4 linked regions of the Homo sapiens genome follow. The protein of the gene in region 2 interacts with the protein of the main gene of each other region in a pairwise test. Each region holds a gene or a part of one and is shown on either strand. Other genes may lie near its edges. The genes, in order: PGRMC1, GOLM1, STRIT1 and SLC30A3.

Region 1 (7,077 bases), on a different chromosome or scaffold from region 2:
ACCCTTTTACAATATAATTAAGTTCAACAAATATTTATTGCATGCCTACTATGTGCCAGACATGGTCTAGGGGCTTGAAATACATTGGTGAACAAAATGAATCTTGCATTCTAGCAATTTCACTCTTGCCAATTGTGTCAGAGTGCTTGTTTTACTCTGTGCTTGCCAACACCAAGTATTACCATTCTTAAAAAGCTCCAAGAAACAAGAGAAAAAAGAACACTCCAGTCATTTGAATGATGAGAAATGGTGCATTGTTTTTATGTTCCTTTGGATTTATTTGCTTCCTTACTAGGCTGAATTATTTCCCAAACATTTTCTAGCTAATCAGCCAATTGTTCTATTTTTCTCTGAAAGCTCTTTAAAACCTTTGAAAATAATTAAAAGGAGACAGAAAGTTTGAAAACACTAAAAGACTTAACATGTATCTTGGGAAATAAGTAGTCCTTGGGTCAAGTACATCGGCTTTAGGAATTGACTTGGAGCCAAAGAGCATATTAAGGCAACTCTCATGTTCTGAAGGGGGCTTTTTATTCAGGAGCACTCTTGCTTATTTCCAGATAACTTGAGAACTGCCACCCTGGAGGAGACCATTCCACTCAGCATTGATTCTGACATGAGCCTGAATGATGGGATGCTTTTCTTCAACAATCTCTACATCCCAGTGTTAGCTAATAGCCCACTTTATTGAACATCAAATCTGGTTTGCAAGCATTTATATTTTTAAACTGTATCACTTCTTGAGGTCTTAAGTTGCACAAGTTTTCTACCCTCCTTGTGAAGCAGGACTTCCTTTAATCCATTATCCTCCAAGGGGACACAGAGGTGTAGCAGAAGAGACACTGGACTACGATAAATGAGAATTATTAATCCTCCCCATCCCTCCATGAAAACACTTTCCCCAGATTTAATAGCGGTTACCTTTGAGGAAAGAGAATCAAGAGTGAGGAGAGGGACTTCAGTTGTCTTCTATATCTTCCCATAGTTTGAATTTTCTAACTTTAGACAAATATTACTTTGAAAAAACATTCCAGCAGGGGTTATCTGGGTGGGGAGCTAATGGCTTGGTTTTTGTTTTGTTTTTTTACTCTGTGTCTCTCTTTATTGGAAAAAAATGATAAAACTTTTATTATATAAAATTTCCCCCAGTTTTATAAAACAAAATGTGTGTGTGTGTGTGTGTGTGTGTGTGTGTGTGTGTGTATGTTGCATGTCTGCAAGAATATAAGCCAAACTGCTAATGTATGGGCCTGATTTAAGTACTGTTTGGGGAACTTGGAGAGGGAGAAAGGAGTTTCATTTTTTACTTTATACACTCACGTATTGTTTAAGTTTGTTATAGTGAACATGTATTATCATTCTACATTTTTTTTCAGAAAATAAATAATAAACCATTTTCCCCCCTGAGGTTAAAAGTGACACATGCCCATTGTGGAAAATGTAGAAAGGTATAAGGAAGAAACTAACAATCACAACAGTTAACATTTTAGCATATTTCTTTCCACGCTTTGTTTTATGAATTTTTTGACATAGTTGAGTTCATACTGTATATAGTTTTGTATCCTGTTTTTCCCTCAAGATTAAAACACAAGCGTTTTGCCATGTCATGATTTTTGGTAAAAGAATTTACCAAAACAGTTTTAGTTAAAAGAAGGTAGATTTATTAGATAAAGTAGGAAAATATGTTGTCAGAGAGACAAAGGGCAGCCTGCAAGAGAGAAGCCAACTGCCAGGAGACAAAGGCTTGCTGGAAATTTTATAGGATGGCGTTTATGCTGTCTGTTGAAGAGGTCTTTGTGTAATATTGATAATGCCAAGGTCGCAATGAGCTAACTTACAGGTGTCTGGTGATAGCTGGGCATGGGAAGATTGTGAATTATTTGCGCAGGAAGGCTGCATCTTGGTCATGAAGAAAGGGAGATTTGTAGCTTATTTGCTTTTTCTTTTTGCTATTTCATGCTCCCACCAGCCTGATTCCCTTTCCCTAATTAGGACTCCAGAATGATGATATTTGAATGGCCTTTTAATGGTTTTGTCACAATTCAAGTGAATTAATTCGCCATTTTATTTGAAGTCGGACATTTAGGTTGTTTCCAGTTTTTCTGTATTAAAAATGAATCTCTGCTGAGCATCTTAGTAATGAAATATTTGTCTGCGTTTCTGTCTCCTTGGGATGGATTCCTGAAAATGGAATTACTAGGTCAAAGAGCAGATTTCTAGAAGTGGGATTAATGGATAGAAAATATTTTTATGGATAATAAAAGGTTATACCCAACAGCGTATGTGAGTCTCACCACTCTCTCGCCAATAGTGTGTTATCCTTTTTTTTTTCCCTTTTATCTTTCCTGTAGAAAAGTAGTAGGTGACAGCGGCATCTCCATGCTTTTCTTTTTGTTACTAATGAGACTGAACATTTTTCATATGCTTATTCACCACTGGCATGCTCTCTTTTGTGAACTACCTGTTCCTATTTTTTCCCATTTATTGACTAGAATCTTATACATTTTCTTATCAATCCAAATGATCTCTCAAATAAATATTAACCCTTTGTCATATTAGTTGCAAATGAAAATATTTTATAAGTTTATTAGCTTTCTAAATTTTCTTGGCCATACATGTTAAAAGAGATAGATTCTAACTATAGACAAGTGCCCTCAGTTTGAGCCTGTTTCTCCATGATTAAATTGAAGAGTTTTGACAAAAGATTTGGAGGGGCTGTTTCAGCTAATCCCAAATTTAGCTCTGAGAAAAATGCCTGGGCCCGATACAAAGATTGTTTGGCTCATTGCACTTTATAATGATTTAAGAAGATGTGGGGGGCAGGGATGGAAGCAGTTTTTGCCAGAAATTTTTAGAATTCTGAGGTAGGAAGCCAATCTTTACTCAAGTCTCTTGCGTGTTGGGAGGAGGAGTAAGTTATGTGCAAGCCAACAGAACACTTGGTGGAAAAGTACTGCTCTGGGCTGCAGATGTGTGCACGGCTTGGTTTTAATTATTTGTTTCCCTCTCTATCCTTTCTTCTCCTCCCCTCCCCCCGCCACCAGAAAAAGGGCCAGATTAGGACGAGGCAACCCCTTCCTCCGTGGAGGTCTGCTTCTGTGCAGCCTGTTAGCACATCAAAGGCCGGATGAAATACCTAGGAAAGGAAGGGACCAGGCCTAGGATCCTTCCAAACTCCCGCCTTTGTCTGGGCTCCAGCTCAGGGTTATTGTGACTGCCAAGGGTAGCCTGACAGACTCCAAATAGAAGAACGCTGCCAAACAAAGAAACTTTCACATTATTCTGAGGGGGGAAAAAAGAGCAACAAGAGAACGTTGCTTGTTAATGCCTGGTGACTGAGCAAATCAGTAATTGCAAAAGGGTTTTTCGGAGAACAAACCCAAAGTTAACTGGGCGATCAGATTCGTTTCCCCAGATAATAGGGAGAGTTGTGCACTGACTTTAGCAATCCCGGGGGTGTCGGTCCCACAGCATCTGGGGGAGAATTGGGGAAGGGCCATCAAGGAGAGCGAATGGGGGTTCCCAAGGTGAAAATGAGTCGTGTAGGGCTCTAACATAGAAAATGGAGTTCGAAGAATGAGTTTCCTGTCTCCTAAGACAGCTTGGAGGGCCCGGGAACGGCAGGGGGAAGATGAGGGGCTTCAGAATGGGAGGCAGGGAAAAGCCTGCAGCAACAGAAAGGGAGTCGGTGTCTGGCGCGCATCAGGTGGCGGAGGGGCGCTCGCACAGAGCCCGGCAATGCCGAGGCCCTCCCAACGGGTCGGTCTGCGAGGAGCAAAAAAGGGGTTCAGAGGAGGGCAGCGCGTGCGTCGCGCTCAGCTATAGGATGGCGCGAGGATGGCGTGAGGCTGGGCTGGGGCCTCCCAGGTAGAACTGAGGGGGGCACCGCGCGGCCGCGGGGGAGCGGCGCCGGACTCTAGAGGCTTTGGAGGGGGCCTGAGGGCTGCGGGGCGGGACCGAGCAGGGCGGGGCGCTTAGGTGGCCTCGGGGGAGGCGGGGCTTGGAGGCTCCGCCCCTCAGGCCCCGCCTCCTCCCCGGCTAGTCTTTGGCCGCCGCCGAACCCCGCGCGCCACTCGCTCGCTCAGAGGGAGGAGAAAGTGGCGAGTTCCGGATCCCTGCCTAGCGCGGCCCAACCTTTACTCCAGAGATCATGGCTGCCGAGGATGTGGTGGCGACTGGCGCCGACCCAAGCGATCTGGAGAGCGGCGGGCTGCTGCATGAGATTTTCACGTCGCCGCTCAACCTGCTGCTGCTTGGCCTCTGCATCTTCCTGCTCTACAAGATCGTGCGCGGGGACCAGCCGGCGGCCAGCGGCGACAGCGACGACGACGAGCCGCCCCCTCTGCCCCGCCTCAAGCGGCGCGACTTCACCCCCGCCGAGCTGCGGCGCTTCGACGGCGTCCAGGACCCGCGCATACTCATGGCCATCAACGGCAAGGTGTTCGATGTGACCAAAGGCCGCAAATTCTACGGGCCCGGTACGCGGCCGGCGAGGGGGGCTTGGAGACAAAAGAAGGGGGCCCCGGCACGGGGCTGGGCGGGAGAGAGGCGAGGCGGGAGCGGGGCGCCCCTGAGTGGAGGGAGGAATGGCGGCGAGCTAGGGTAGGCGGGTAGGCGGGCAGGCGGAGAGCCGGGAGGCTCCCGGGGCGGGCAGGGAACAAGAGGCGCTCTAGAGGGGCTGCGGGCCAGTCAGGGACGCGGATCCCCGGCCCGCGCTGACAGCGCTGGGAGGGGGTTAGAGAAAGAAGGCTGAGGCGCTTAAGCCGGGGGTGGGTGGGACCACGAAGCTCGAAGGCGTTGAGGGGGGACACATCAAAGCCCAGGCTGTTGGGGTAGTTTTCGAAGGTCCTGGGCTTGGGGATTCCTGGAAGGAGGAGGGGGTAGTGTCGGGTTCTAGGAAGGAAATGAGGGTGTTCCGAGGGAGGCATGGGGGAGGGCGAGAGTGAGAAAAGGTCCAGACCTAGAGAAGACGGGAAGGCCAATGACACCGGGAGTAGGTTTGAAATATGAGGGTGTGGGAGAAAACGCCGAGACGGGATTAGCAGCAGGTAAAAGCTTTGTGCCCGGTGGATAGTGATGTGTGTGTGCACTCGTGGTGTGTGCATGCGCGGTGTGTGCGTGTTTAGTGTATGTGATTTATCAGGGGTGTGTGTGTGTGGTGTGTGCATGCGCGCTTGAAATGGGTCATGCGTCAGGTATGTGTGTGGCATGTGTTTGGTCTGTGTGCGCTTGTGCTGTGTGTGGCAGATGGGGAAAGGCTGGAAGGTGAACAAGGAGGAAGGGGGCTGTTTGAGGGAGGAATAAAGGCTGAATATGGTGGACAATGGTAACGTGGCAAGCTTTTAAGGTAATATGGTATTTAGTCTATAGCAGGAGAGAAAGGATTAGAAGCCAAGAAAAATTAAAATGGAGGGAGGGAGAAGTGGGAGGATACCAAGAAACAAAAGGAGTAGAGCTAAGAAGACTGCTGGGTGGGGGGATATCAGGAAAAGCCAACCAGAGGGAAATGAAGAATGGATGACTGCTGCACTGCTGAGCTGTTGGAGAAGGCAGGCCTGATGGGTTCCTTAGAGGCGAGGTTTTTGCAAACCTGGTTGCGTATCAGAATCACCTGATGCATCTGAGGAAAAATACAGATTCCCAGTCTAACCGCCAGAGCTGCAAATGAGTCTCGGGTGGTCCGGGAGTCTGTATTTTAATATGCTTCCCAGGCGAATTTGAAAAGCAGCCAGGCTTGCAAAGTCCTGCTTTATAGAATACTTGGAGATGAGGAAGAAGAGGTTTTGGCTCCTCCAATATGGACTCCTCTAAACACAGGGAGCTTAGAGGATGTCCACATGGACGGTGCTCATTCCACACTGGCCTGAGAGAGGGAAGAGTACAGAAGGCAGTACACAAACTCAGGCATTCATTTTAGTCTCCCAGTCCAACTGATCAAAATCAGATGTGTTAAGGTTAAGGAGCTCAGTTTTTTCTTGCAGACATTTATTTATTATAAAAAATAAATTTTATTTATTTTTTAGAGACAGGGTCTCCCTCCTGTGTTGCCCAGGCTGGTCTCGAACTCCTGGGCGCAAGCAGTCCTTCCACCTCCATTTCCCAAAGTGCTGGGATTACAGGCATGAGCCACTGCACCGGGCCTGTGGATATTTTAGAATACCTGCTTTCTATAGGCATGTAACTGTCAAAATCATTTGAAAACCACATACATTATTTGTCACTTAGAGTAGCACACATAGTTGCTTTATCAATAAACATAATCATGTAAATACCTGTTAATATTGAGCTCAATATTAAAGGAGTGAAAACATGTGCATGAGGCATCATCATGACTGTAGTTTGCAGAGTCATTGAGAGGATGTCAGCCTGTGCACAGAGCACAAAACTGGGAGTCAGGCAACCTGCGTTCTAGTCCTGATTGGGTCATGACTAGCTGTGTGACCTTGTGCAAAGCATTGTTCTCTCAGAGCCTTAGTTTTCCCTCTGAAAAGTGATAAAGATGGCCTATTGTGAGATCTCTGTCTCTATCTTGCACTGTCATTCAGTGAGCCCATGACTACGTGACATCTTGGTAGAAAGTGATGCTTCATGTTGTAAAGGATTCCTAAAAATTAGTCATTCTAGTGCCTGTTAATTCTGTGCAAGGCACTGTTGTAGATGTGGGAATATAGCAGTGAGCAAAACAGACACAAATCTCTGCCTATGGAGCTTACGTTCTAGTGAATATATGTTGCACTGAATAATATGTATTTTTAAAAGACTTTTAATGTTCCCACTAGAGAACATTTAATTGTTTAAATGTTTAAATATTCTATGAGGTTTAAATATTCTATGTTTAAATATTCTATGAGGTTTGCTTGGTAAAGACTCACTCTACCAAGCCAATGACCATAATTTCTGAAATGGTAAGGTTCAAACCATTGCATTTGCCTATTCTCAAGCACTAGGTGCTGCCATTTCCACTAGGGGTGTACATTTATGAAAAATGTGGGCTTTTTTTTACCTTCTTTAGTGAATGTGGCAGCATGTAATGATGATTAAAAATAAGCATTTTTCTTTGGAATTTTACTTGCATTT
Region 2 (7,232 bases):
TTGGTACCTGAGAAAGGAAATAATGGATACTGAAAGCAAACACAGCAAGATATTTACAGCAAATACTTTTTAGTCTGTTCAATTCAATTTATTTCATGCAGTTTACCCTTGAACAATCTACGGGTTAGGGACACCCCCATCTCTGCACAGTTGGAAATCTGCATTTAACTTTGATTCCCCCAAAACTTAACTACTGATAGCCTACTGTTGACTGGTAGCCTTACTGATAACATAAACAGTTAACACATATTTTGCATGTTATATGTATTATAAACTGTATTCTTACAATAAGGTAAGCTAGAGAAAAGAAGGCAGCATTTAAGAGCAATGAACTAGGATATCTAGCAGAAGAAATGTCTAAGCAGTAAAGCATTCAAGGTGTTGCATGGATTGTTTTGGCTGCTTACAGTAAAATTAGAGAAGAAATAAATGATTAAAAGATGAAATTTATAACTAAAAAGGAAGCAGAAAAAAATTTTGAAAATTTTCAGCCTGGCCAAGAGTGCAAAGGCATGTTTGGGAGAGCCTCATAAAGATGTAAGTCCTTGTAGGGATATAGTCCAGTGGACCCCTTGCTAAAGAGATTACCATGGCTAGAAAGGAGTCAGGTGCTATTCATCAAGACAAGAAAGACCCCAATGGCATTTCAGAGATTTTTTAGGTTGCCCCTTCCATCACAGGCCCAGAGCAGGACCTTGAAGGCAAGGTTTCCAGAGACGTGGCCACAGGACCTCAGCATTTGCTACCAGGCACTGCCTCAAGTATCTGCTCCCCGCTTTCCAGCACAGCACTCCACAGCTGTTGCAGCTGTGTGGCTCAAGTGGGCCCAGCTGTGGCTTAGGCTACTGTTCTAGAGGGTGTAAGTGGTGGGCCTTGGCGGCATCCATGTGGTGCTAATTCTGAAGGTACACAGAGTTCATGAGCTATGGGGCTATGGCAGCCTCCACCTAGATTCCAAAGAATGTACTGGACAGCCTGGGGATACAGGCAGAAACTTGCCGTAGGGGCAGAACTGCCACAGAGATTCCCTACCAGGGAAATGCCTAGTGGAGCCATGGAAGCAAAGCCATAGCAGGGAACCACCACTAGGACAATGACCAATGGAACTGTGGGGTTGGGGCTGTCCCAGAGCCCCCAGAACTGTAGAGCTACCAGTGTGCAACACAGCTTGGAAGAGCTTTAGACATGAGACTACAAACCATGAGGTTCTGTGACATGACTACACCCAGCCAAGTTATACAGATGGGGCAGCCCAAGACCTTGGGGGTCCAACTCCCACCCTAGTATGCTTAGAAGGTGAGATATAGTCAAGAAAGGCTATTCTGAGGCTTTGGGATTTAATGTTATTTTTTCCCTGTTGGGTTTTGGACTTACTTGGGACCAGTTACCCCTTTATCTTACATATTTCTCCCTTTGGGAATGTGAATACCTATACTGTGCCTGTGCCACCATTGTATTTTGGAAGTAAATAATTTGTTTTAATTTCACAGGCTCATTGCTGGAGGAATTTGTCTTAGGATGAATTGTGCCTTGAATCTTGCTCATATCTGATTTAGATGAGACTCTGGACTTTCTAGTTGGTGCTAGAGTGAAGACCTTAGGGCTGCCAGGTGCAGTGGCTCATGACTGTAGTCCCACCACTCTCGAAGGCTGAGGCAGGTGGATTGCTTGAGCCCAGGAGTTTGAGACCAGCCTGGGCCACATGTCAAAACCTCATCTCTACAAAAAATACCAAAAAAATTAGCTGAGCATGATGGCATACACCTGTAGTCCCAGTTACTCAGGAGGCTGAGGTGGGAGAATCACCTGAGCCCAGGAGGTTGAGGCTGTAGTGAGCCATGATCACACCACTGCACTTCTGCCGGGGGGACAGAGTGAAACCCTGTCTCAAAATAAATAAATAAATAAATAAATATTAAAGCCTTTAGGGCTGTTGGGATGGAATAAATGTATTTTGTATGTGAGAAGGATATGAACTGGGGGTGGTGGGGGGCATAGAAGCAGAATGCTATGGTTTGAATGTGTGCTCCATAAAGCACGTGTTGAAAACTGAATCTCCAGTGCAACAGTGTTGGGAGGTGGGGCCCAAAGGGAGGTGTTTAGGTCATAAAGGCTCCACTCTTATAAATAAATTAATGCCAATTATAGAGGGTTTGAGGCTGCAAGTTCAATTTCACATACACCCTCTTGCCCTTCTGCCTTCCACCACAGGCTGATGCAGCAAGAAGGCCCTTGCAAGATGCCAGCACCTTGATATTAGACTTCCTAGCCTTCAGAACTATGAGAAATACATTTCTTTTCTTTATAAATTACTGAGTCTGTGGAATTGTGTTATAGCAACACAAAATGGACTAAGACATTAAGGAAAGGATGCTTAACAGGCAAAACATGGATGCTTCCTTCAACCAACCACTGTAGCCCCTTGCACATTGTTTAATCAAAACCCATCCAATTGAATTTTCAGGGCCAGCAACTGATTAGCTTTTTTATAAGGAATGTAAATTATGTATATAGATATATATAAAACTGCATCTTAAAATTTTCAACTTTTGTCATAAAGAATCTAACGAAAAGGACTAATTCATCTTCAATTAAAATATAGCTCATTCAGCCAGCTGCCTTAGCACCTAGACATATGGACCTGTTCCATAAAGTGTTTAAGAATCACTGAGTGAGTCGCTAATTAGTTGCTGATAAATGAGAGACTAATGGAGACCCTCCTTAGAGCCAAATGATATAGAAGTTACAGTCCACCAGTCTAAGAATGTAAACTATACTAAGAGAGCTAAAATGGGCAAGAAAGGGAATTTCCTGTACCTGTCCCCGATTATGGTTATTTAAGCTCACTAGAAGATCAAAGTGACACAACTTAAGTCTGCAAAACCAGGGCTGACATCTGATACAGCCTCAGCTTCTGAATGCTTTGGTCTGACCCTACAACAGTTTAACAGTTGCAGATAACAAAAATATCATTTTGGAATATAGTAGAACATTCCTCTAAAGGGGTCATGTATGGTCAGCTTCTAATTCAGCTAAGAGGTTTTAGCTGGTAAAGATACGTTTCCTGCAGTTAAGAAGCTCCATGCTCAGGTAGCAATAGGGTATCTTGATCACCTTTTTTAAGGTGACTCTTTGTTCTGGTTAAAATCAATTTCAGCTGTGAGCATTCCTTTAGGTGTTCATGTATTTACTTGTTTTTTTATTGTGATTTGAGAGAGGCGCAGAGGAAGGAGTTTCCTTTCCCAGACACCAGAGCTAGGAAGACATGAAGACATGATTCTAGGAAAACTGTTCTCAATCTTGGCCGTATACTGTATTAGGATTATCTGGGAAGCTCAAAACAAACAAAAAATATCAAGTTCACTTTGAACTCTGGAAGTGGGACCCTGGTTCCTAAATGCTCTAAAAGCTCCCCAAATAATTCTAATGGATGGCAGGTGCTGCCAGAGTTAAGAACCATTGCTTTAGAATTTTCTAGCATGGTTTCCCTGTAGGTCACTAGTTTTGTGGCATTCTCTCCGGGAGGTACGGCCTCATAGGGCTTCTCAAACATCAGTGCGCCTGAGCGTCATCTGAGGCGCTGTTTCAAATGCAGCTGCCCGGGCTATAAGATCACACCCGAAGGCGTCCGGGAATCTTCACTTTTTCCGTTGCTAGCAGTGGAAGGGTCACAGACCAAACACTAAGGCCTGAGCGGTGACAACCGAGGCGAGATGATGGTCAACAGGGAATGCCTCGTGGGAGAAAAAAGACAATTTTGTGAGTATAAGCCCCCTAAAAACCTGTTTTTCGTTCGCTTCCTTCTCTGGGCAGTTTTGACCCGACGACTTTTATAAAGAAGGTAACGTGAGTGTGGCGCTGGGTGCGGTTGGCTGTTCGGGAACATTCCCTCGGGGCGGAACGTGGGATGGGGGCTCCCCCCAGGTACCCTTTCCCCACAGCCGCTTCCCCGCTCCGCGTCGCTGCTCAGGCGCCAGCTCCCGCGTCGGAAGGGGCGATGGGGTGGCCCGGGGGAAGGGGCAACGCCCAGCGGCGAGAACTGGGCGCACGCTGGCGTTCCTGCTCCCGCCGAGGGGCGGCCACCGGCCGGGGCGCGCGCACCGTGGGGCCGGGAGTCCGCGCGGCCCCGGCAGCCCCTGCCTCGCTTCTCCGCGCTCGCGGCGCCGCCTCCTCCCTTCGCGCCGCCGGCGCTGCTCGGGGGCGGGGCCTTGCCGCTGCGGAGGCCGGAGACGCGGCGGCGCTGGACGCGGAGGCGCTGGGCGCACGGCGCGGAGCCGGCCGGAGCTCGAGGCCGGCGGCGGCGGGAGAGCGACCCGGGCGGCCTCGTAGCGGGGCCCCGGATCCCCGAGTGGCGGCCGGAGCCTCGAAAAGAGGTGAGTGGGCGGCGCGCGGCCCCAGGCTGCCCGAACCGCGGTCCATCGCTTCCTCCCTCCTTTGCCCAGGGCCCGTACCCCGCGCGCCGAGACCTCGCGTCGGTCCCCGGAGCCTCCCCGCGGCTTGCGCCGGGGCTGCAACCTTCGCTGGCTGCGCTCGGGGCTGGCTCCGCACCTTCCTGCACCGAGTAGCCCGCGGCTGCCTGGGCCCCTCGGCTCGCTCCCCAAGACCGGGCGCGCGGCCCCCTTGCCCTGCGATGAGGGGCCTCGCGAGGATTCCCTGCCCTGCAGTCTCAGGCGATGCGGGGCCTGTCTTTTTGTTCTGAGCTTTGTCACGCGCGTCGGCATCCAAAGTCAAAAGCGTGCACCCCCTAAGTCGCACTAGTTCCAGTTCTGCAGCGTGATTTGCACCAGGCGCGGGAGGCTGGCCGAGCCGCGAGTCTCTCGGCTCCCGCCGCCTCTTCCTCCCCTCCAGCCCCAGGCGCGCTCCGGCCGCCCTGGGGTCCACGTTGCCGCTGGGCCTCGTGGCTGGTGACCCCGGAGCTTGGGCTCCGGGTCCTCCCGCCGCGCGTCCAGAGCGCGGCTGCATCCCGTTCTCGTGGATGCTCGGGGTTTTCTCGCATACCTGTGTTTCCACCTTTGCCAACGTGGAGGATCCACACAACTTTGCCCTGCTGTAAAAATCATATCCCATTTAATATTTTTAATGATTTGCTTTTAAGAAACAAAATGTGAAGAATAACAATTTTGATGAAATTTTTTAGCAAAATTTAAGAATTATTATATTTGAAATACCATGATGATGCTGGACAATTTCAGATGTCCCATAGCCAGATTTGCAAAACTAAACTTGTGTGACTTTCACGATTTTGAGGTTTTCTTTGTCTGATTTGGGGTCCCTAGGCCCTACATTATGCACATTATTGAGGAACATTTCTAGGGCTGGATTAGTGAGATACACAATAACCTGATGAAGTATTTAGCAGCGCTTGAGTGGCTTTGTTTAGCTCATGGCCATCAGGTTGGCTCAAATCTCAGTTTTAGTATTTCTGAATTTTGGAGGGCATGGGACAATCTCTTGTCAGTTTTTGTGGGTCTCCAAAGGCATCCTAGCTTCTTCCAGTTGTGTTATAAAAGATGAAGCTAAGCTCATTACTTTCTTTCTTAATAGAAACTAGTAACTTGCTAAGACTTACTGTTTTTAGGCCAGACACTCAATTCTTAAGGTGTCAGTGAACAAAAATTGAATTGTTAGGATGGTTAAAGAAAAGAGGTTAGCTTTTAAGATACATTTTGTTCTCCTATGGAGAGGTTATCCAATTTTCACATTTTTTTTTAAAGTTGGTTTTACAGGAAAACGAAAGAAATGAGAGGAAAGTAGTGCTGAGGGTGGGGCCAGGAAATTGTGGTGACTTGGATATTAAGGGCCAGGGATACCATCTGCTTTCTAATGGCTGGTTTAGGTCCAGTTATTGATGGGAAATGAAAAGATTTTGCATTTACATTCCACCCGCTGTTGTTGTTGTTGTTGAGGGCTGGGCAGAAACAACAGTTAGGACAGCTGACCATAGCAGGCCCAGGGCTACCCGGGTTTATATATATATGGCCACCTTCCCCAGGAAGGAGGGAACTGCTACCCTTATCCTGTGAAAGTGCGAGCTGGCTTTCTGCATTGGAAGTACAGAGGGCAGAACCTGGGGAAAATGCGTCTGCGTGGATCAGTAGGAAGGGTGGAGCATCACTTTAGGCAGGTGTGCTGAGAAGAAGACAGGTGTCAGTTGATGGGCACTATTGGTGGGAGGGAGCTTGAAGGCAGCGTGGTCCCTGAGGTCCAGCCGCCTTTCTCAAAGGACCTGGGGTGGCCATTGGGGGCGGGGGAGCGGTGTTCTGTGCCTTTGGCTTAAATTCTGCAGCATTATTGTTATTACTTGTTTTTTCTTGAAATAAAAAAAAAATAAGTTGCCCTATGAAAAAAGATACATTTCTTTTTCAGTGACGTAATGTGAGAAATAACATTTGTAATTGGGATTTTTTAAAAGCACTTCTGTTTTTGTAAAACAAAACAATTTTTTAAACATTTGTAAAAAAGTAGAAGGAACAGAAGGAATGGTGCTACTATGCTTTTGCTCTCACCTTAGAAAAGGGCGAATGATATTTCACTTGCTCCCCAAAAACTGTTCTTAAAGATCATGGTGGTTTTCTGGACTTCTCACGTTATTGATGAAGTTACATTAAAAGAGAGACTTGTCTCCAAATTTATGAAGTGTTTCTTAAATTTCCAGAGAGTCTTTCCTTTCTTTCACACAGATATTTCTCACACTTTCAGGAAAAAAAAAAAAAAAAGTCCATGCCTTCTCAGATTTTTACATTTTGGTCTTATTTTCCTTTAAAACCCTTAAGCACTTTATTAGTAGGACTTCCCTTGCTAAGATTTTGAAGATTAGTGCCTGACAGAAAAAAGTACATATATAAATACTATATAATATGATTATAGTTGTTTATATTGTAATTTGCTATCGTTTCCCAACTTTTTTGATGTTTCTTAGTAATAAAAAAACTTTTTTAACACTCTTCTGTATGTGCATTTGTTGCTTATTTATAAACTACATGTATTTGCTGTTATGGTTATATTGTGTCTCAAGGCCCAATATACACATAGGGCTGGATTTGTTAACAACATTAGAGGTAGAAACCCTGTTTTAAATACTCTTTCTCTTAATTTTAAGTATTTTGGGCCTGTGTCTTGTCAGATCTGATTACATCAGCATAGTTTCTACTTCATGAGGTATCTCATGCAAGGCTGACTCAGTATAGAGCTTTGCCAGCCACGGTATTTTGCTGTCCTGTGTTTGCATTTAT
Region 3 (7,587 bases), on a different chromosome or scaffold from region 2:
TCTTATTGTCCTGAAGAAATTCTTATGCATACCAAAGTGCCAGTTTATGATCCAAGTTTGTAAAGTGATGTCAAACATTGCATTGTTTAACATGAGACATTTAATAATCAGTCATGTTCATAGTTTTCTTAATTCTTCTAAATGATGTCAATCTGATATCTTCTTGCCTGAAAGACAAAACATTCCATTAGTAAAATAGAAAAGATTGTTTCTGGAGTAATTTAGACTATAAATAAACATTCAATTATTAAAACCCTTACCTTTCTAAGAGAAGACAACATAAATCATTATGATGCAGCCCACAATCCAGCCAATCAGGAGAAGAATAGGAACCAGAAGGTGTGAAAATGTAGACCCCGCTTTAAAATAAACCGTAGAAAACAGATTATATTGGTCATTTTCATATTAAATTTTCTGTGTCAAGAGAATAAAAGGAATTTGGTAACATTAAGAAAAAAGCATACACTCTCTAGTTATACCCATACATAATTATTTTTTCTTTTCTACAGAGAATACGTGAGACTGTCATAAACCCTGGGTATTTTGAATCAAACCATGGGTCTTTTACTGTTATGTGACCTTTGGCAATTCTGGGCTTGAACTTTCCTACTGGTAAAATATGAATAATGAAACTTGTGCTCTCTACCTCCTGGAATAGTTTTGAACATCAAATGACATAACATATGTGCAAAGCTTTGTAAACTCTAACCACCGTGTGTGTTTAGTGTATACAGAACACATTCATGCATTTGTGCAATAACATATACAGCAGCTATTTATATAAAAAACAATCTAATACAACTCTGAGGCAATTCCCACTAAAGTAAATAATTATAACACAAGGAAAGGTATTGAGAACTGTCCTTGGCCTCAATAGCTGAATGTAATTTTAAATATCACAGGGAAAAGGAAAGTATCATACATTATGTAACCATTCTTGACTACAGAAAAGAATTTCTATTGTTTAAAAATTGTTCAGTATAACAACCAGCACTGAACCTGAATCAATGGGCAGTAATAATCCAACACACACATAAATGGCGTTTGTTATATATGATTCCTTCTGTGCCTCCTATTTGTACTCTTACCTGTAAAAAGCAATTTATACAAGTATCTTTTTTAAAGTATGCACTGCATGTAACTCTTGTTCTTTCAAGCAAACATACACAGGCATACACACAGAAATCCACACCTACATCACACAAAAAGATTTAGAAAGAGCGCAGAAAAACATTCTATGGAATTAATGTCCCTGTGTTAAGGACTCAGATATATTCTTAACTGCAAAGCATAATTAGATCTTATGCCATTAGTTAAAAGAGAGAATGCATATTCTTAGCAATTATACTCCTATTACAATTTCCATCACTTTAAAATGTGAAATTTTTAAAAATGCTATTAAAATAAAATCATCAGGAGATGAGACACATTTAAAATTAGAAGACACTTTTATAAAAGCAAACTTTCTGAAGTTGAAATAAATTTTAATACTTTAAATCAATTTTTCCAAGAATGCTAGAGTCTCTCTTAACTGACAAAATTCAACATGCTTTTCTTGTTTCTCCATCTCACTGTGACCTTGTATAAGGCATTAAGCACTAAATGGAAAACTCTTCTCTTTACTTGACATGTGGTATTGCTTAAGGATAAAGCAAACAACATGAGTTGCCCTTTACTCTCATTTGGACGAAAGCCTTTTTATGAATTAAGGTACCATTACAATGGAAGTACATAGCAGTAATTTTTTTGAACTGTCTAGGTATGTGGCTTTATATTTTTCCCAATTTCAAAGAATTTGAAAATTAATATTAACCCTTTAATTGTGCATTTATATTTTATACATGCATATTTTAATAAAATTTACATATCACAAAGCCCTAAAAGTATCTCATTATTTACTTTCCTTGTAAAATAGTACCAGTAGCACTAACTGTGCATTTTAACACCCAAAGTATACATTCCATTGTTTTTTTAACACTAATGTTTTCAACTTTACTAATACCTGTGGAATTGTTTGGAAGTAGAAATACGTAAGAGCACAACATACTTTGCATATGTCACTTACATTACTAGCACAAATAAGAACAAAACATCTCTTAAACATGAAGTGTAATTCTAAAATGCTTCTCTCTTGTCCAGTTCTGAGCATATCAAAGTAGTTACAGCTGGAAGTGTTCTTGAGGACACTGTGCTCTGGAAAAGACTGTCCAGGTTAAACACCTGGTGCCACCACTCTTTAGCGATCATGAACAAGTTACTAAACTGCTGTGTCTCCATTTTCTTATCTATAAAATGGGGATGATGATGATATGCATATTTCACAAGGTCATTGTCAAGATTCAAAGCAAAAATTCCTGTTTAATATTTAAAAACCATTTCTTAGATACAGTATATATTCAACTTTTTGACAAATTGGAATCAATTATTTTATATAACTATAAAATATAAATACAAAAAAATGTTTAAAAACCAGAAAAAAGTTAGATGTGGAACAAAAATTTTAGGTGTGGAATAGATGCCTGAGCCCAATATTCTCATTTTACTGTCAGAAAACAGACTCAGAGAGGTATAGGGACTTCTGCAAACTCACATAGCCATTTACTAGCAGGTCTGACACAGAACTTAACTGTCTTCAATTCTGGCTCAGAATTGAAATCAGGAGAACTGATTTCTAACTCACCTTTCAAAATAAGTATTAACAAAATTAAGCTCTTTTCCTTTGTTGATCATTTTAAAATTATTCATAACCTATAGACCTGATCCATAGATTACATAATTAATGCATTTTTGCAGCCACACTAACATATATGGTTAATGGTCATTTAGCATAGATATCACATTTTTTAGAGTGACTGGGAAACACCAAGAAACATAAATGAACCAAAGTCAAGAAGCCTTTTTTTTTTTTTTGCCAAGAGAATCCTATGCCTTAAATCTTACCTTTTTCAGCCATTATTCCTGTTGGTGGGTGGCTAGGTCAGGCCACGCTTACCTCTTTCTTTTGTTATCCAGCGTCTCTTTGAACTTTAAATAGAGAGAAATCTGAAGATTGCGGCAGCTGCCCGTCTCCTGGCTGCCAATTGTCTGCAGAGTGATGTAAGTCATGGGAAAGCAGAACTCCTCTGGCTCTTTATTCTATTATTATGGAGGAAACGAGGGGCTACATGACCTAAACAATTAGGTAAGCTGAATTATCCTAATGCAGATATTCGCAGGTTTTTAATTTGCACCATGCCTTTAGGTAACATGAAGAAAATGTTCTATAAAGAAGGTGTACAGAGGAAAAACAACATTCCACCTATACAAGTGCTATCAAGGAGAAGGGTGATATATTAGAAAGAAAGGATTTTGATGTTGGAGAGACTTGGGTTCAAATTCCAGCTCTTTCTGTAATGAAAGCCAAGTTGCTTAACCTGGGAATCAGCTTCTTTAGTTTTAAAATGAGGATAATAATACCTACTCATGGGAGTCGCATAAAGATGAAATGAAAGTCTGTATGAAATGTAGACAGTTCTTTATTACTTTACAGGTGGAAAACATAAAATGAAATGGTGCCCCTTTCTTTGAACTATTCTAAAACAAAAAGTGTTAATATAAATGTACTAGAAACTAAAACAATACAGACGTCGCCTAGAATTTTTAGGAAGCAGTCATAAGCTTGTTGTTTTTATTAGCAATGTATAAAAATAGGACATTTCATTTTTCAAAGTCCAAACTGGTTTATGTAACTGACCTAGACTATTCTCTATATTCTCATTGGAATAACTTTAAATTGGGGATCTGGCTGGAAAAGTTTTGCAGAGTGACCCTGTGAGCATCTTCCCAAAAAAAATTTGACATAAGATTAAGACCTGTAAAGGCAGGTCTGGCCTGATCAAATTTATCTCCACAGAGTTCCAAGAGTGATATTGCCTTGCAAATGACCATGTTCCATCACTGCTCAAAAATCCACCAATAGTTCTTCATCTCCTAGACAATAAAAATCCCAACTCTTTGTTTAGACACCTAAAAACCCTTATTTCTCTACTCTTCCATTTGCAGTGATAACTTCAGTGACACTGAACTCCTTGCTATTATATGAATTCAGAATCCTCCCACTCTCACAGGCAAGAAGAACATTTGACTTTCTACCTCAAATAATGTACCTATAGATTAGAGTGTGCAGCCAAGAATCTGGCACATTTATATCATTTATGTCAAGTTGTCATCTCTCTCCTCAGTCTCTCTCTCAATATATTATTTAATATTGAAAAAATGTCTGGCTATGTCAGGTAAGCAGAAAAACTACGTATTGTTTATGCAACAAAATCCCTTGCTTACCTGGCAAAGTTGGGTATTTTTTTCAATATTAAATAATAATACGTTAAACAAAGGTTAACTGAGGCCAAAAGAGAGAGAAGAAATAAAAATGTTATTGATCTCATTTAAATATAAAAAATGTTAATTCAGTAAGTTCAAATGAACACTAATTATCTTAAGGAAAAAAATGATATTTAAAACAAACAGTGTGGTACCCACAAAGAGCACAAACATACATAATAAAATAAAATAATTTGCCTGAAACATATGAAAAGGTTTCTACATTTTAAATACTCATTTCCATTTCAATTATATTAAGCTTTCTTCTTGACATGAAATTGACTATTATTAACATTATTGCTGTCAATTTGGAGTTTGAGGAGGGATTAGTTTATAATTCATCATTTATTTTCCTTACTTTTCTATGGAAAGAAGAAGAGAAAAAACTAACTTAATCAACATGAATTTCTCAGACTTCAGAAAAGAATTCAACCTAGAATCTCATTTCCTTGGTTATATCATCAGTAAATTTTTTAAAAAATATAAGTTTTATAATATTTAATCAGGAAAGGATGTTTTATTCATTAATAGACTGGTTTCACTTTGAGCTTATAAACCCAAGGGCCTATATTTGACCGTTTTCTAATCTTTCTCTTAGGACATACTAATTAGGAACATTTTCTACTTTTTTACTTTACATACTGTCTTAAACATTTAGCTCTCAAATCCCTTATTCTCAAGGTGACATTAGATTCTTCAGAGATATGTGAGCCGAAAAATTTAAATATTTGGTTTTTCTTTAAAATATTTAAGAATTCTTCACTTTTCAAATATTTTTCACTACTAATGTCTGGAATTATAGTACATAGACCTGACCATGGTGGATGCTCATGGATCTTTGCTTCATGGCTGGCTGACTGGGTAGGTGGATGTAATAAGTGCAGTATAAGGTAGCTTAGTTTGCACTCTAAACAAAGGTTTACTTATGGCAATACCTAAAAGAGTAATAAGAAATAAAATGATCTTAACTATACTCTAGCCTTATAATATATGCATATATAGATAATACAGTGTATTTAATTACCAGTAACATTAGAATAATCTATAAATAAGAATATAAACAAATAAAAGAAAGTGACATCTGCAAAAATAGAGGAGTGGGGGACTCCAAAATATCTTTCCTTCATAAGAGCACCAAGAAAGCCATCTAAAATTTTTGAATCAATTTTTAAGAATTGTAGAAATTAACCAAGGACTTACAGCAACTGGGGGAGCTGGAATCTAGGTAAGAACAGCAAGAGTTTTGTGATGTTTTAATTTGGCCTATTCTCATCTCCCCCATCTCCAGCTTTGTAGCAGCCTTAAACAATATCCCAAAATCTCAGTGAAAACTAGCAGACTAGCAGCCACCAGAGGAGACAGAGCAGAACAGAACTCTTTCAAAGTCTCAGTTTCAGAGAACAGTAATTATTTAAACTGTCTGGTGGTTCTCCCAAAGACCTCACCTGCAAGGCTGTCTTTATTTGATAAGACTCAGAACTTCCACTGTGTGAAAAGTACCCACTCCCAGGGCATTTGTTGAAAACAATTAGAGGCAATTGTTTAACATCACAGCTGCCTAGGTAACAGAGTGAACAATAGGCTAACTAAAAAGCTTAAAAGGAGAATCTAGGGAATGAGATGTCAATAGGGGTTTGAAAAGTTTCACATATCCTTAAGAATCTAGAAGGCTACATGCATATGTTCAGCTATGGGCATGACCTCATGGCTGTGGGTATGCTTAGGAAAGACCTGAAAAGGCCCTAAGCTTTCACCTCTGGCTAACCTTGAGGCTCAAAATGGAAAGCAAATGGTAAGGCAGTTGTCAACTGCCTGGCTGAGTGTTAAAGGCATACCTCAACACATACACAGAGCCCATCATTAAAGTCTGGAAGGCATACTAGTTATAGGCATTTAAAGAAATCATTGTCCAATCATTAGTTGATAACTAATCTAATTGAGCAAAAATTTTAGTGGTCACATACAACAAAGAATGCAAATTGTACACAATCAGTTCAGAATAATAACAACAACAAACAGCAATGACAACAAACTCTTGGGAGGAGGTAGAATCTGATTTAAGAGTTGACATTATTTAAAACTACTAACTTTCAACAAAAAAAAGTTATGAGATATGCAAAGGAACAAAAATGTATGCCCATACAAAGGGATAAAAAAACTATCAAAAATAACTATTTCTGAGAAGGTCTATAAATTAGACTGACTAACAAAGACTTTATGTCAGCTATTTTAAGTATTTTCAAATAACTAAAAAAAGCAAAAGAATGCCATCTCAGCAAAGACAATATCAGTAGCCAGATAAATACTATTTTTAAAAGAGCAAACAAATTCTGAAGTTGAAAGGTGCAATGACTGAAATGAAAATTTTACTAGAGGCTCAACAGCAGATTGAGCAGGCAGATGAAAGAATCAGTTAATTTGAAGGCAGTTTGATTGAGATTATCCTGTACAAGAAACAAGAAGAAAAAATAATAATGAATATGGCCTTAGAGATCTGTGGGACACCATCAAGCATATCAACATATGCATAATTAGAGTCCTAAAAGAAGAAGAGAAAGGGCAGAAAAAATATTTGAATAAATCATGGCCAAAAGCTTCCCAAATTTGTGAAAAATGTTAACGTACATATTCAAGAAGCTCAATTAATTCTAGGTAGAATAAACCCAAAGAGACCAATACCTAGACACAAAATAACGGTCAAGAACCAAAGACAGGTTGGGTGCAGTGGCTCATGCCTATAATCCTAGCACTTTGGAAGGTGGAGGCAGGTAGATCACTTGATGTCAGGAGTTGAGACCAGCCTTGTCAACACGATGAAATCCCATCTCTACTAAAAATACAAAAATGAGCCAGGTGTGGTGGTACACACCTGTAATCCCAGCTACTCAGGAAGCTGAGGCACAAAAATCACTTGAACCTGGGAGGTGGTCATTGCAGTGAGCCAAGATCACACCACTGCACTCCAGCCTGGGCAACAGAGTGAGACTCTATCAAAAAAAAAGAAAGAAAGAAAGAAAGAAAGAAAGAAAGAAAGAAAGAAAGAAAGAAAGAAAGAAAGAAAAGAAACAAACACAAAGAGAAAATCTTGAAAGCATCAAAAGAGAAATAACTAACTCACTATATGCAAGGGATACTCAATAAGATTAACAGCTGATTTCTCAATAAAAGACATGAAGCTCAGAAGGCAGTGTTATGACATTCAAAGAAAAAATATTGTTAGCCAAAAAT
Region 4 (7,973 bases), on a different chromosome or scaffold from region 2:
TAAAACAAGGAATAGAAATAGAGAATGTCTAGGGAGAGGTTTCAGTGTTTTTTTGTTTTTTGAGTTTTTTTTTTTTTTGAGATGGAGTCTTGTTTGTTGCCCAGGCTGGAGTGCAGTGGCAAGATCTCGGCTCACTGCAACCTCCGCCTTCCAGGTTTGAGTGATTCTCCTGCCTCAGCCTCCAGAGTAGCTGGGATTACAGGCACATGTCACCACGCCTGGCTTATTTTTGTATTTTTAGTAGAGACGGGGTTTCCCCATATTGGCCAGGCTGGTCTCGAACTCCTGACCTCAGGTGATCCACCCACCTCGGCCTCCCAAAGTGCTGGGATTACAGGCGTGAGCCACCGCATCCAGTCAGGTTGCAGTTTTTAAACGGACAAGCAGAGAGGGCCTGGCCAGGTGATATTTGAGTCAAGACCTGAAGCATGTGAGGAGGTAGGTCATGAGCACATCTGGCAGAGTGCATTACAGCTGGTGAGATAAGCAAATGTGAAGGCCCTGGGGTGGGAGCATACCTGGTGTGTTGTAGGACTCACAAGAAGGCCAGGATGGCTGGGGAATGAGGTGGGAGAAGTGTGAAATGAGATCAGAGGAGCTAAATTCCGTAGGACCCCTTGCAGGCCATTAGAAGGACTCTGGCTGGTACTCTGAGTGTGATGGGGAGTGACAAATCTGATCTATGTTTACCTAACTGCTTGGTTGAGAATAGACTATAAGGCAGTAAGGATGGAAACATGGAGACCATGGAGGAGGCTATTGCAGTAATCAAGAAGACAGATGATAGTGGTTTGGACAAGGGCGGGATCAGGATTTGCTGACAGCTTGGATGTAGAGTGAAAATAGAGGAGTCGAGGATGACCCTAGGATGTCTGGCCTGAGCAGATGGGAGGATGGAGTTACCATATTCTGACATGGGAAGACTGCAGAAAGAGAAGGTTCAGGATGGCGTGACAATCAGGGGCTCAGTTTTAGACTTATGGAGCTTGATAGGCCTGCCTACCAGACAATAAGGAAGGGATGTCAAGCTGACATGTGGATATATGAGTTTGGAGTCCAAGTGAGAGATCTGAGAATCACCACCAAACACATGACATTTATTATTTATTTATTTATGAGATGGAATCTCACCTGTCATCCAGGCTGGAGTGCAGTGGCATAATCTCAGCTCACTGCAACCTCTGCCTCCCGAATTCAAGTGATTCTCCTGCCTCAGCCTCACAAGTAGGTGGGACTATAGGTGCATGCCACCACACCCAGCTAATTTTTGTATTTTTTAGTAGAGATGGGGTTTCACCATGTTGGCCAGGATGGTCTCAAACTCCTGATCTCAAGTGATCTGCCTGCCTCGGCCTCCCAAAGTGCTGGAATTATAGGTGTGAGCCACCAGCCAGGCTATTTTTAATCCTTTTTAATAGAAAAATTCAAACCCATACAAAAATAGAGAGAATGGTACAGTGACTCTCTATGTACCCAGAATCTAGCTTCAACAATCATTACTTTCTGCTGTTATTGGATAGTATTTAAAGACCAGAAACTGGATGATAGCTCCATGGGAGTGAGTGTGGAAAGAAAAGAGAAGAGAGTGACCAAGGCCTAGGCTAATTCAGCAAGAAAAGATTGAGAAGGTGGGGAGGAACCAGCAAAGGGGACTGAAAATAAACAGCCAGTGAAGTAGGAGGAAAACCAGATTATGGTAGCCTGGAAGCCAAATGATGAAACAAATAATTCCCAAGTAACAATTTAGTTACAGTATGATCAGTGCTGAAAGAAATAAACAGTGTGTTGACCCAGCATGGTGGCTCACACCTGTAGTCCCAGCACTTTGGGAGGCTGAGGCAGGAGGATCACTTGAGTCCAGGAGGTCGAGGCTGTGGTGAGCCATGTTTGTACCACTGCACTCCAGCCTGAGCAACAGAGTGAGACCCTGTTTCCAAAAAAAAAAAAAAAAGAACAAAACAGAAAAAGTATTGTGCGATGAGAGTGTATGACATGAGAATTAACTTAGTGTGGGGGCCAGAGAAGGCCTCCCCGAGGCAGTGACATTTAAGCTGTTGCCCTCCCTCATTCTCCCTGTGACCAGCTAAAATCCTACCTCCTCCATCCTGCTTCCACTCAACTAGCTCCTCCTTTCTGGGATGGCTTAATTGAGGACAGTGTGGCAGCCATTAGTGGGGTTTGGGGACACAGATGAGAAAGAAACAATTCCTGCCTTCAGGGAGCTTGCCCTGTAGCAGGGAGACAGACAAGCAAAGGACTTCATCACCATGAGGTGAGTGCTGGGATCAGATAAGCACAGTGTGAGCCTTGAGAGAAGCAGGGAGGGACACATACCCAGTCTGGGAGAAGTCAGGAAAGGCTTCCTGGAGGTGACATCTGAGTGGAGCATGGAGTAGAAGTTGGACCTCCAGGTTGCCTCCTCTGTCCATGCTCTTCAGCTTGGCTTGCACTTGTCAGGTGTTAACTCTTGTCCACATGCTTACATTTTAAAATTTGCCTGAAATCTCCAGCCCAGATTAAATCCTGACCTCAGTGCAGAGAATCGCACTTGAGGCCTGGCATTCGCGAGGACCCTTTGCAAAGATGTTCACAGGGCCATTTGATAGCTCTTTGAGGAACAGGTGGAAGCATCCTGTTTCGCCGCCAAGCTTTCCTTACATAAATTTTCAAGTGAAGGTTGGTATTCCCACCGCCGGCGCCCTCGGTTTCTGGAGGCGGCACGTTTGGCCACGCGCTGCGAGGCGCCTCTGCCTTCCCCGCCTGGTGGCTCCCGGCAGGGGCGGGCAGGGCACGTGAGGGCGTCTGCGCCCCCTCCTGGCACTCGGTGCTGCTGGCCGCGCGGGCTGCCCGGGAAGGGAAATCCCGGAGGAAGCCATTGTTGTTATGTCCCCTGTTGTCGTCATCGGCTGAGCCGTGCCAAGAATCCCTTTCCCCGCATAGGACCCCGCAGTTTCTCCCCATTCTCGAGCTCACCCGCCAGGGTCACTACGGGCCAGGCTGCCGCATCCGAGCCGCGGAGTGCGCGGTGGCCGCTGCGCATCCCAGCTCCAGGGTTCTCAGAATTGGGGAGAGCCCTAGGATGGGTGCGACGCTTAGAAAACCGACGGCGCCGGGCCCGACGTACCCAGAGCCCTGGCATAGCTAAGCAGGGACTTGGGTTCCACCTTGGCTCTGATAAGTAGCCCGAAAAGGTGAACTTGGCCGGTGGTTTCCTGCTCTCGCCGCCTCAATTTGCTTCCCTGTGACCCGAGGAGAAACAGAGGTCCGTCAAGTCCCGCGCCTTAAAGGGAGGTTAGAGGGAGAACGACCCCCTCGCTCCCTTACCCCCTCACCCCTCATGGGCTTTGGACTGGGGAGGCTGGGGGCTGGCGCGGAGGAGAGGCTGGCGCAGCCGGGGGTGGGGACGGCGCGGAGGGCGCGCGCAGCCCCTGTGGCTCTCCCGTGCCGCTCTGCAGCAGCGGCGCAGGACAGTCCCTTCGCACGCGCCGCCCGCACACCTTGGCACGGGCCAAGCCACACTCTCCCCCGCCGGAACAGCCAGCCCGCCGCCCAGCTTTCCTAATCCGTTTAAGCCTCACCTCCTCCGCGAAGCTCTCCCGGGTTAACCCCATCACTTCCAACCACTGTATCTGGCACGTGCTCCCGTTTTTGTTTTGTTTTGTTTTGTTTTTTTGCAAGTGCACTCTTGGGCTCGTTGGAATAACAATATCGAGGGTAGGTGTCTGTCCCCAGAAGCCTAAGTTCAGGACGCCCAGTGTGTTCTGAAGGATGCGGCTGATGAGTTTCTTGCCTGGGCTCACTAACCATTCCCACCCTCCACGCTTCCCCATCCCTGCTCACTCGCTCCCCTCCTCCTACGGACCCTCCTCTTCACAGACTGTCACAGCTTCGAGTGCACAATCCTCTTCCCACCCCCTCCCATTCTACAGTGGCGGCAGGTGCGAGGGGAGAGAACATTGAGCATTTGAAGCTTCGACTTGAGGCTCGGCCACCGACTTTGCTGTAAGTCGCTCCCTCCCCTGGGTTTTAGTTTCCCCCAAATGAGGCAGAATGCGGTAATGTCCAGGAGGGCGCTGCAGGTGTGGAGGATGGGAATCACTAGCTGACACGCTGCCCCGCTGCCCCTCAGCCCCTCTCCATAAACAGTGGCCGTGACACCAGATAGGCGGCTCGACTTCACTGGACCCCCGCCCGTAAGAGAACTGTGAGCGCTCTCCAGTTGCCAGTGCGGCGTCCAGAGCCGGGGAGGGAAAGAGGATGGGGGTCCAGGCCGGGCCCTTTATTCACAGCCTGCATGACCTTGGACTCTTCTTCCTCTGGGTCTCAGTTTACTCATTTGAAAAGCAGGGATAACAGTGGGTTGAAGGAGAGCAGGAAGCTTGTCACCCAATGTTTCTGTATAAAAATAAATGATCATTCGCGGTACAGTGATTGGCAGCAGACTGGGCTCGTGAATTCCGACCCCAGATTCTCCGTAAAGGGGTTTCTGGAGTCCCTGGAATCTCCCTGTGTCACCGCTCACCTCATGTTCTTTCTGGTTCTCTGGAGATAGGTAATGGGTCCGCTCCTGTTTCTGCCTCCGCGTGAGGGTTGCGGCCACAGGGTGACGGCGTGGTGGGCGACACCCCCGCGCAGGCATGCACAGAGTGGTGGTCGTTGGGCGAAGGTTGGTCGTGAGGTTCTTGGGCTTCAGGAGCGAGGCTTGGAACCGGTGGGCGGGACTGTGTGCAGAGGTGGGGCTAGCTCGCCTGGGGGACGGGGCTGTGGAGATGAGGAGTTCTCCAGAACTCGGGTGGCGGGGCGCTCCCGGGCTCTGGCGCGGGGAAATGGGGCTTTGGCAGTGGGGGCGGGGCTTAAGGGTGGGGAGAGGCCGGGGAGCCTGGAGGCGGAGCTTGGGGAGCTCGCCCCACGCGGGGCGGGGCTCCGGCGGCAGCGGGATCTGCAGTTCGGACTCCGCGCGCCACAGTCGCTGCAGTTCGCTCCACTCTGGTGGCCCCGCCGCCCTGCGGGGATCCCGGGGGTCGGCGGGCTGCTCGGACTTGGCGCGGGGCCGGCCCGGCCTCTCTCTTCCTCGGTGGGGCCTAGACGGTCGGGGCACCGGGAACATGGAGCCCTCTCCAGCCGCTGGGGGCTTGGAGACCACTCGCCTGGTGAGCCCCCGGGACCGCGGTGGCGCCGGAGGCAGCCTGCGTTTGAAGAGGTAGGACAGACCTGGGCTGGCCCTCGGCCCGGGGGCGCCACCCTACTACCCTCCGTCCATTTCGTTGTCTCTCTCGGCGCGGGCCCCGGCGGCCGCCCCAGCGCACCGCGGGTCCCTCGCTCCGCTGCACCCCGCTTCATCCCCTCTGGCCACACGGAGCGCCCAGCCCTACACAGCCGGCTACGCCTCCTCCCGGCCGCCTGACTTCCTCGGGTGAAGCGGCCTCTCACTCCCCTCCGGCCGGCGTCCCAGGCCGCCGGACCCCTCCGCCACCCCCGCGGCGCCTGCCTTCCCTGGGAGCAGCTGCCGCTCGGTCGGGCCGGAGCCCTCGCCCGGTGCGCCAAGGTCCGCATTGCCCCGGGCCCAGGGCGGGAGCGCCTCGCTGCCCAGGCTTCAGAGCTCCCTCTGTAGGCCCCGGGGGCTCCCCTCCGCGCGCCCCCTCCAGCCGCGGCCAGCTGTGGGCGCCGGGGCCCGAGGATGGGCCGGGCTCCGCGCGGGTCTTGCGGGCCCCTGGGGGGCGGGCGGCCGCCGGGAAGCGAGGGGGCGGCGAGGAAGGAGCAGGTGCGGTCTGGGCAGCGGGGGTATTCCCGGCTCCGCACAGACGGGGCCGGGGGCGGCGAGGTGTGAAATGAGGCGCGCGGAGCGGCCGGGACAGCGGGCCGGGGGTGGCAGGAGAACCGCCAACGCGCCCCGCCGGCCCCCGCGCCTGCCGCCACCGTCCACCTGCCCCTCTGAGCGGCCGTCCGACCTCCCTGCCCACCCCCGTGGGCCATCTTGTCTGTCGGCTGACCGTCCGTTTGTCTCCGGAATTTGGCAGGGTCTCCGGCTTTTTCTCTTCCCCCACCTCTCTCAATCTTTCTGTTTCTCTCCTAGTCCCTTTCCCTTTGTCTCTGACGTGGTGCTTCTGTGTGCTTCTCGCTCTTTCTTTGGGTGGGGGCCTTCAAGCTGGGTTGGGGGAGGGGGTGAGCAGAAGAGAGCTGGACCCCTTCCTGCAGGGGCCTGCAGAGACGCGGTGGGGGCTCTGCCGTAGGCCTGGCATCTCTTCAGGTGTCCTTTTGATTTTGGTTCAGCCCCTGCTACGTCACCCCTCTTCCCCGCTCAATATCGGTTGTTGGTTGGGGGTTTCGGAGGGCCAGGGAGAGGAAACAGCCTTTCCTTGTCTCTAAACAGCATGTAGCCACCCCACATGCCCACACCCCCACACACCAACAGCCAGGCTTCCTTAGTGCCCAAATTATGCAGAACAAAAGGGAGCAGCCTGTTGATGGGTGGCCACCTTGATGACTGGCTGTGCTGTGCCTTACAAGGCCAGGGAATGAATGTTGCCCACTGCCCCCAAAGCCACCCAGCCTCTGCGCTTCAGACTCACATCTCCAACTCCAGTCCATCTTCACTCATATGACCATTAGTCACCGAATCCTGCAGCATTTTCTGAAAGGCATTTCCTAACCTACCTGCCCCTCCAGGGAAGCTCTGGCCTGGTTTGTTCTAGACCCCTCCATTTCCTCTCTTCTCCTCTCTTCCTCCCATCAGCAAGGTCATCTCAGTGCTCAGGAGATATTTGTTCAAGCAGTCAGTGTATCTCCCTTTATGTTCCTTTGAGCCCATCACTTTCCTCCTCAGCCCTCCCCTGACACTTCACGCTTAGACTCCAAGCCACAAACCTCGTCTTTGTCATTCTACATGTCTGGAACACCCTTCTCCAACTAGGTCTCATCTCCTTAAACATACCTTTCTCTGTGAAGTTCTCCGAGCCCGCTGTGAGGGAGTGCTCCCTTCCCTGCACCCCAAAGTGCTTTGTTCATAACCCTCCTAGCATCAACCTGTCCTTATGTAGTAAGCCATTTGTTACAATCTGTCTTTCCCACCAGACCAGGCTTCATTATGTGTGCTCTGCCTGGTGCACCTCATTGAATGAATGAGGATCGGTTTCACAGCCTCCTTCACCACGCCATCTCCTCTGGAAACACATCCAGAATCATACACGCCCAGATTCTAAGTCTTGGATGGGGCTTTGGAAATTCAAGAAATTAATCTACCAGTATTTCAGTTCTCTGTACAAGCACCAAATGTTCCCCCTACCTCCCTCAAAACTCAGTTCACCCACTTGGCAGAATTGTCTTTAGCCAGAAGGCCCCAGACATCCCGCCCCACTTTGCTGCTATGATCACATTTCTATCTGGAGCCATCGTTTTTACTTGTGGGTATTCTTGTCACACCTCCATGAGTATTTCTAGTACTGTATTTTCTATTCAGGTCCTGAATTCTGTGGAAAATTCTGTCCTTGCTGGGTTCAGGTTGGGTAGTGGTGGGGCTGAGAATTGGACCAGAATGGACTTAGCACTCAGCCTGACCTCACTCAGCCTCTGGCATCCCCAGGTGAGGTCCCAAGCCCCATTCATTTGTCAAGGGAGACTTATGGTACCATGCAGTTAAGGTGGGCTCTGCTGGGTGCTTATAGTCGGACTGAAGTCCAATTAACATGCTCCTCCCACTGCCATCCTCAGCCATAGCAGGCTGCACCCCTTCCTCCCATGACAACCCCAGCTCTGGAATCTAGCCATCAGTTCTCTGTGCCCGGAATCAGACTTTTTGGCCCCAATGTCCCGCTCGTCTCTTAAAGGGCCACACTTCAGCTTCATGTCTAGGGAGGGCGGGGGCAGGATCCAGGAGTGGAGGTTCTGGGAGGTGGGCCTGGAAAGGAGGCACACCAAGGCCAGGAACACATGCTGAGTCCCACTCCACACTTCACTCCACCTTCCCTTCATACTGC

What was found.
Region 1: the proteins of GOLM1 (region 2) and PGRMC1 interact in binary tests that used the Homo sapiens proteins (3 or more experiments, as listed by UniProt).
Region 3: the proteins of GOLM1 (region 2) and STRIT1 interact in binary tests that used the Homo sapiens proteins (3 or more experiments, as listed by UniProt).
Region 4: the proteins of GOLM1 (region 2) and SLC30A3 interact in binary tests that used the Homo sapiens proteins (3 or more experiments, as listed by UniProt).

The regions. Positions count from the first base shown.
Region 1 is NC_000023.11:119,232,214-119,239,290, forward strand, and holds the start of PGRMC1 (membrane-associated progesterone receptor component 1), read left to right. Parts: upstream 1-4,071; 5' UTR 4,072-4,150; coding exon 4,151-4,478; intron 4,479-7,077. UniProt on the Homo sapiens protein: Component of a progesterone-binding protein complex. Binds progesterone. Has many reported cellular functions (heme homeostasis, interaction with CYPs). Required for the maintenance of uterine histoarchitecture and normal female reproductive lifespan.
Region 2 is NC_000009.12:86,096,552-86,103,783, reverse strand, and holds the start of GOLM1 (Golgi membrane protein 1), read left to right. Parts: upstream 1-4,225; 5' UTR 4,226-4,373; intron 4,374-7,232.
Region 3 is NC_000003.12:155,290,680-155,298,266, forward strand, and holds the start of STRIT1 (sarcoplasmic/endoplasmic reticulum calcium ATPase regulator DWORF), read right to left. Parts: upstream 3,005-7,587; 5' UTR 2,954-3,004; coding exon 2,941-2,953; intron 360-2,940; coding exon 265-359; 3' UTR 261-264; intron 168-260; 3' UTR 1-167.
Region 4 is NC_000002.12:27,260,039-27,268,011, reverse strand, and holds the start of SLC30A3 (probable proton-coupled zinc antiporter SLC30A3), read left to right. Parts: upstream 1-4,964; 5' UTR 4,965-5,105; coding exon 5,106-5,200; intron 5,201-7,973. UniProt on the Homo sapiens protein: Probable proton-coupled zinc ion antiporter mediating the import of zinc from cytoplasm into synaptic vesicles and participating to cellular zinc ion homeostasis in the brain.